Homo sapiens: one gene and its partner. The protein of the gene in region 1 purifies or fractionates together with the protein of each later gene. This does not show direct contact. Each region holds a gene or a part of one and is shown in the gene's direction. Other genes may lie near its edges. The genes, in order: ANKRD20A1 and PTPN5.

Region 1 (4,254 bases):
AATAGGTAGAAATAGGTAGAGTTGGGATAGAAGCCTTTGAAGCTACCCCCGTACCTTGCCCACCTGGCACAGGCCGAGGAAGTCCTGGGACAATGCTGTGAGCGACCTGAGGGCCGTCCAGGGGAGCCCCGCCAGCCCATGCTGGCGCCCGAGCTGCCCGCCGCCATCTGAATATGTTGCAAAGACAGTGCTGGCCTGGCAACCGGTGACGCTCCACGCCCCACCCCGACCCCCACTTCTACCCAAGTAGTGGCTACGCTAGAGACAGATTCCTGGGCGGCAGCGGTTAAGTCTGGCAGTTGGCCAGGTGGCCAAAGGACGGGAACTGGCCGTTCACCCCATCCCAGTTCCACAGAGAACTCAACCACTATGGCCCCTGAGCGGACCTTCAGGCCTGGTGGGCTGTGCTCTGTGCCCGCAAACCTGACGCCATCCAGGGGAGCTCCGCCTTCCCGCGCCAGCGCCTCGGCTGCTGCAGAAAACTGCAAAACTGCAAGTTGCACACGGGCAGAGATGACGGAGCAACCCCCGACCCTCCGCGCCACTCACCCTACCTGCACACCTGCCGCGCGGACCCTGGGGCGGGTGCCTGGGTGCCCAAGTCAGGCAGTCCGCACAGCAGTGGCACCAGGGTGAAAACCTGCTGCTCGGTACCATCCCGGTTACCACGAAGAGCCAGTCCCGGCGGCCCCTGCGTTCTTGGAGGAGGCCAAGTCAGAGCAACCTCTCAAGTGGGAGGGCGATGCACTTGACCCTGAGGACATCAGGTACCAGGCCCGCCAGCTCACGCCGGCATCGGAGCCGCAGCTGCAGTCTAGACGTGGTGCACCGGCAGCAAGTGACTGGACACTCCAGACCAGGCCCGCCCCGCAGTAGCGTGGATCCTGAGGCCAGACCCCCAGGCGGCAAAATCAGGCAACCGGCCCCGCCAGCAGCCGCTGTTTCATCCGTGTGGACACAGAGTGCCCAGCGCCAGGGCCCAGGATCCAGAAAGATGTCCAAGAGGAGCGGACCTTGAGGCCAGGTGGGCTGTGCGCTCTGCGGCCCTGAGGCCATCCAAAGGAAGCTCCGCCATCCTGCGCCAGTGCCAGATCTGCAGCTGCAAACCGCGCGTGTGGCACTGGCAGCAGTGAGGGCGGGTGGGGGAAGGAGCAGCCCCTGACTCTGCCTCCATCCCTCTCCAGCTACCTGACACTAGCCACACAGACTTCAGGGCCAGAGCCTCAGCGTTCAGCCAATCCGCGAAGCCACTCAGGTGGCCGCGGAGTGCCCTTGCCAGCACCCTATCTCCCTTCTGAGGAGGAGCGGGGCGGGCTGCAAGGCCAGACAGGCCCTCTTTCTCAGGCCGGGCTGGCTGCGCGCCTGCGATCCTGGGGCCGCCCGGGCGATCCCAGGAGAACCGGCGAGCCCATCGGCGCACGCCCAGAGCTGCAGCCCCACCTGCTGGCGCGCGCCGCCAGGGAGCGTCTTCCGGGAGCCCGGCAGCAACCGCGGTGCAGGCGCGCTCCGCCAGGGACCGTCTTCTGGGAGCTCGGCAGCAACTGCCGTGCAGGCGCGCGCCCAACGGCTTTGCGAGGCTCACTCGGTCTGAGAGGTCGGAGGCTGCGAGTGTCGCTGCTGAAGGCTGTGGTGGACCGGGCTGGATCGCGGATTGTGGAGTAGACCATAGATTTGAAATAGCGGAGTTGGGGTTGGATCGGGGCTTTGGGGTTGGATAGGGGATTTGGGGCTGGGTCGGCCGGGGTCGGGGAGGGGGGTGGTGAAAAGGTGACAGGGAGCTGCCCCCGCTCAAGAGCCGGTGGTTGGGGGTCTGAGAAGAAGTCACCAATATGAAGTTATTCGGCTTCGGGAGCCGCAGGGGCCAGACGGCCCAGGGCTCCATAGACCACGTCTACACGGGTTCCGGATACCGAATCCGGGACTCCGAACTGCAGAAGATCCACAGGGCAGCTGTCAAAGGCGACGCCGCGGAGGTGGAGCGCTGCCTGGCGCGCAGGAGCGGAGACCTGGACGCCCTGGACAAGCAGCACAGGTAGCGGGGGCTCAGCCCGGGGTGGGAGGGGGCCCCCAGGCCCGGCTTCCCCGCAGACCCTGGGACGGGGCCTTGCAGGGCGCCGGGCACCCTCGGAGCGGCGGAGCCAAACGGACTCTCAGCTGTTTTCCATCCCTCATAATTCCCTGGCTGGAGCAGTTGGAGAATTTGAGTGATTTAACTCACAAAGTTAAGCATATACAGCGTTGTTATTTTTAACGTACACGTTTAAAACATGGTTTATATACATTATAGGAGGTGCCTAATGAGAGAACTCGTTCCCCTATCAAAAATAACCGTGAGTTGTTTCAGTGGGCGAAAAGTTCTCAGATAAGAGAGCTTACTTGAAAAATATTTACTATATTATATATATATATTTTTTTTTCAGATGAAAAGTATGTTTTCATTTTATAGGGAATTCATTATATTCTTTTTTTTTTTTTTTTGAGTCAGAGTCTCGCTTCTTTGCCCAGGCTGGTGTCCAATGGCACAATCTTGGCTCACTGCAACCTCTGCCTGCCGGGTTCAAGCAATTTTCCTACTTCAGCCTCCCAAGTAGCTGGGATTGCAGGCAGGTGCCAGCATGCCTGGCTAATTTTTGTATATTTAGTTTCACCACGTTGGCCAGGCTGGTCTCGAACTCCTGACCTCAAGTCATCTGCCCGCCTCCACCTCCCAAAGCGCTGGGATTACAGGTGTGAGCCACCGCGCCTGGCCTATGTTGTTTATTATATATCATAAGATATATATATATTACTGATATGTATACATATATAACACATATGTTATATATATCAGTTATATATACACATTAGATGAAAAGTACCTCTTCATTTTACAGGGAATTCTTTCAAATCAAATCATCAAACACTCTAAAAGTGGGCAAAGTACCTTTTTCCAGATCTACAAGTTACTTATATACATAGGAAAAAATCCTTCGCATTTCTGGTATAAGAATTTAAACTAAAAGAGGAATGAAACAGTTTTCTATCCACAATATTTGTGAGGATGTTTTATACTGCTGCTTAAAGTTGCTGATTACTTTTCAAAGTACTCATTTGAAAATGGTAAGTACTACATTTAAAAAATGTGTATGCCCTTTACCCACCAATTCCATTATACTAAAATACCCTTAGGAAATAAAGATACATGCACTTTATTTTTCACAGTACTTACTTTAAAGAGAACCCATAGAATGGATCCTATAAATAAATTTCAGTTGCATCCATAGGATGGAATAATATGTGACCACTGAAGGTGGCAGTAGATACAGAAGTACGTTGATGTGCAAAGATGTATTTTGTTATAGCTAGCAAGGAGAAAAAAATTAGTTAAATTATACATACACAAACATACTATGGTCTTGTTTTAGCAAAAATATGTACAAAATATAAAATTTGTAATTTCTGAGCATTTGTATTTTAAGTAAAGTTTTTTTCCTTTTTCTTATCTGTGATTGCTGCAGTGAGTACAAAACTTCTAGTAAAAGTTTATTATTAATGGACTAATCCTTGGGAAGAGAGGAATATGAATCTTGCGCTGATGAAAATAATTTCTCACTTTCTATTCTTTATCATTATTGTGTGTGTTGTTATCTTCTTTGAGCTTTTAGCCTCTTCAGAAGTAAAAAGGGAATGTTTTTATCTGTTTCAGATTTTATTATCTATATATTTTATTATGTACATATGTTTTGCTTATATACTCATTCCATTTATGCAAACATAATCATTTCATTTTAATTGTGTTCTTTAAAAATAAAACAACACATATAAATAATTACTATTGCAAAAATATTGCTTTATAGGAGTTTATTTAAAAATAATGAACTCCCCAACTGTATTTATCCATTCTTTCATTCCATTTATGGATCAAGCATAACCTGAGTACCTGCTATGTAGCAGACATATTCTGTCATCTCTCAGGACCCGTCCATCCTTAAACACTTCATGTTTACCTGCCCCACCTGCACAAGCTGAGAGATTTAAAATAGGAATATTGGGACTTAATCTCCTTGAAACTTTATCTCCCACCTTTCAAACAAAAGCATTTCTGAAGTTAGAAAATAGTAGAAGATAACCTTTAACTGCTCTTTCGAAAGTTTATCAGTCTTAAATACTAATATTAATCATTGGAAAGTCTTATTTGCATATATTTTCTAAGTATAAATATTGAATACAATGAGCCATATGTATTCATTTGAATCATGAGTTTCCTTTGGTTTC
Region 2 (3,816 bases), on another chromosome or scaffold:
GCTTTTCCTTTTTCACCTTGCTCCCAGGATCTGAACTGACTGCTCAGGTGGTCAGGAACTATAACCTCCATGGACAAAGGTAGATACCCTCTCGTGACCCTCTTAGACTCCATTGGCACTTAGATTTATTGCTTAATGCACTGTATTGTAAACATGTCTTTACTGGTCTGTTTTAGCCACGAGACTGGAGCCTTTTGAAGACAAGAATTAATTATGTGTTAGCATTATAATCTGCCATTTATTGGGTACTTACTAAATGCTGAACACTATGCTAGGTGTTTCGTCTGTAGTATCTAAAATATTTATAACAGCTGCCGGGCGCAGTGGCTCACACCTGTAATCCCAGCACTTTGGGAGGCCAAGGTGGGTGGATCACTTGAGGTCAGGTGTTCAAGACCAGCCTGGCCAACATGGTGAAACCCTGTCTCTACTAAAAATACAAAAATTAGCCAGGCATGGTGGCACACACCTGCGATACCAGCTACTCCGGAGGCTGAGGCAGGAAAATTGTTTGAACCCAGGAGGCGGAGGTTGCAGTGAGCCAAGATTGCACCACTGCACTCCAGCCTGGGTGACAGAACAAGACTCCATCTCAAAAAAAAAAAAAATGTATATATATATATATATATATATATATATATTTATATTTATAACAGCTTTTCAAAGTATGTATTATTATCTCCATTTATCAGGCAAAAAAAACTGAGTAAAAGAGTGTCCTTTGCCCATCATCATTCACTCATTTAGTAAACATTTATTGTAGCCTTACACACCAGGACTTACGCTACATGCTGTAGACATGAGGATGAACAAAGCTGATACCACTCTGCCTTCATGGAACTTCTTGGTGGGTAGAGGAGACGATATTCAAAAATTATTTTACAACCCATGGCAAGTGTAATGTAGCCTGAAGCCTATCTGACTGCCCTGGATTGAAGCCACCTCTACCCTTACCAGCTAAGCAACCTTGGGCAGCTCTGTTAACCTCTCTGCACCTCATCTTCCTTTTCTGTAAAATGGGGATAATAGTAGTAGCAACTCCATAGGGGTGCTGTGAAGAATTAAAAAATTAACCCAGGCACACAGAGAAGGGCCCCTGCACATTCCAGGCATATTGCTGCTGCTGCTGATGATGATGATGATATGAAAGAGAGGCATGGGGTGCTCGTATGTGATAGAGCAGGACCTACTTCAGGGGACATCTGATTGAGGTCTACAAGATGAATAGGTGTTACCTTGGCAAAGTGTGTGGGAGGCAGGGGAGGGGAACAGAGTGTTGGAGGGATGTTCCAGGCAGAGAGAACAGCATGTCAAAGCATAGGGGGCGGGCTTACCTGAGGAACTGCAAGGAGTGAAGCTGAAATGGGCCCGGCTGGGAAGCAGGAGCCTGTGCTACAAACACAGCTCCAGGACCGGGTTCTCTGCACCACAGTCTTGATCCAGGCCATGGGAGGTGCTCAGTAAATGTTTGTCAAGTGAGCGAGCAGCTCATGGACAAACGGCTATGCTGGGCCCACATGGTTCTGTTGTCACCCAAGTCCATTGTCCCATATACAGCATGATATGTAGACAGCCCCTTCCCAGCTGTCACACTGTATACATCCATGTTTTGGTCCCTCTTTTCTTGACAGTAAACTAAATCCTGTGAGTTTGGGTGCAGACCTCCAATATCTGGGACTCACTGAGGTGGCCGCAGCTAGAATCCCCATGCTATAGCCAGGGGCTCAGATCTAAGCCAATGGTATTCAGACTCTTTAGTAGCAGAACTCTGCCTTGAAATAATCTTAGCAGAAATCCAGTATATGGTACAGGGACAGGCAGAGCTTCTGCCCTTGAGGGGCAGACATAGGGCCTCAGCCCCTGTGCACCTGAGAAAACACTAGGGCTCTGTAAAGCACAGTTAGAAAAACTAGGGTTGAACCCAAACCCCATCTTCCAGGTGGGGAAACTTAAGATCCAGAGAGGGAGTGACTCTCCGGAGTCACTAGGGACAGACCCAGAACTGGCCCCAGACATCTGGTATCAATTCTGCTACACCAAGATTTTCCGGCACTTCGCCCTAACTGCCCCCAGCCCCTCTCATCGTGCAGGGAGTCTTGAGATGGGGTGGGGGCACATGGATGTGGTCTTGTCAAGAGTCTAGCCTCCAGCCCCAGTTAGGGCATGGCCCACATGAGACAAAAATCCACAGGGCAGGCATGGGTGGGTTGCTCAGGGTCATGGCCTGGTTATGCCATGTCTTTTTTTTTTTCCTGCTGCTGCTTCTTTTTTAATTGAGTTTGAGGTGGTTGTTTTTTGTTTCCTTAAGAAATGGAAAAGAATGAAGCTGCGTAAATACAACTATATTAACTCCCTGGAAAACCTCCTGCCATTTTAACTCTGTTACTGGAGAAATAAAAGAGAAATAATTTGTCCACCCACACTTAGCTCTTTCTGACGAAGGTAGGTGAATATTGCTTTGCTAATCGAGGGTGACTGCTGGAAGTGGAGCCACGCTGACTGATCCCAGATTGAGAGGCAGCCACAGCCACCCCAAAAGGGGTGGCAGAGCCCTGCCTGTGGACAGGGCCGGAGTCATCGGCCCGCATGGCCCATCTTCCACAGGTCTCCCCCAGCCGATAGTGATGGAGGCACTGGACGAGGCTGAAGGGCTCCAGGACTCACAGAGAGAGATGCCGCCACCCCCTCCTCCCTCGCCGCCCTCAGATCCAGCTCAGAAGCCACCACCTCGAGGCGCTGGGAGCCACTCCCTCACTGTCAGGAGCAGCCTGTGCCTGTTCGCTGCCTCACAGTTCCTGGTAAGGATGGCACAGGCCTCACAAGGGTCTGGAGAGAGGGTGGGTGGAGGGCCAGCCTCCCACTTCCTCCCCAGGATGGCCACCTGGAAGGCAGGAGGATAAGGGGCCTCCCTGGTGTTCCTCAGGAGCTCCAAGCCCTCAAGGCTGGGATAAGGGGAAGGCTGGAATTCTGAGCTACCGCACCAGCATCTGAGACCTCACACCCTGCCTCCCTAACCTAAGAATCCAGAACACAGGGCCTCCCCGACCCCTGAGCTCCCAGCCGTACAGGGTTCTCCTGAGAACTCCTGTCTGTGGAGGCCTTTCTAGGAGACTACTCTTTTGATGTACATATTTGTGAGGTCCTCTCTGGAAAGGGCTTTCTCTTGGTTCCCTTCAGTCAGCTTTTCTCCAAGGAGAGTCCTGAGGCCTCCCCGGGCACGCAGCACCGGGGCCCTGCTCTCAGCTGCCCGGTCTGGACCTTAGAGGTTCAGGAGCCTCCATGCAGGGCCAGGTTGAGGCTGCAGGTGAGCTCTGCTGGGGGAACACGGGGGAAGGGGGCCGGCTCCATACTCAGCCTGCTCCCCTGTGCCCCAGCTTGCCTGTGGGGTGCTCTGGTTCAGCGGTTATGGCCACATCTGGTCACAGAACGCCACAAACCTCGTCTCCTCTTTGCTGACGCTCCTGAAACAGCTGGAACCCACGGTAAGTAAGCTTTGGGGAGTCCTAGGGTAGCAGGGATCTGTTGGGGGCCTCTAGTCCCACCCTCCCCAACCTCCAGATTGGGCTTCTCTGAGTTCAGAAGATACTTCCAAGCCCCTGAAGTTCTTCTGCCTGCTCCCCATCCCAGACCTGGGACGTGATTTTCAGAATCTTGGTTTTGTCATCATTGCAAGAGCTGAGAACTCTGCCCCCACCACCACCCTGACCTGTTTATCTGATGTTCCCCAGGCCTGGCTTGACTCTGGGACGTGGGGAGTCCCCAGTCTGCTGCTGGTCTTTCTGTCCGTGGGCCTGGTCCTCGTTACCACCCTGGTAA

The links.
Region 2: the proteins of ANKRD20A1 (region 1) and PTPN5 purify together in Homo sapiens (affinity purification with mass spectrometry; one large-scale study listed by BioGRID and IntAct). This does not show direct contact.

What each region holds. Positions count from the first base shown.
Region 1 is NC_000009.12:67,857,598-67,861,851, forward strand, and holds the start of ANKRD20A1 (ankyrin repeat domain-containing protein 20A1), read left to right. Parts: upstream 1-1,333; 5' UTR 1,334-1,829; coding exon 1,830-2,032; intron 2,033-4,254.
Region 2 is NC_000011.10:18,742,988-18,746,803, reverse strand, and holds part of PTPN5 (tyrosine-protein phosphatase non-receptor type 5), read left to right. Parts: intron 1-2,604; coding exon 2,605-2,798; intron 2,799-3,374; coding exon 3,375-3,482; intron 3,483-3,728; coding exon 3,729-3,812; intron 3,813-3,816. UniProt on the Homo sapiens protein: May regulate the activity of several effector molecules involved in synaptic plasticity and neuronal cell survival, including MAPKs, Src family kinases and NMDA receptors.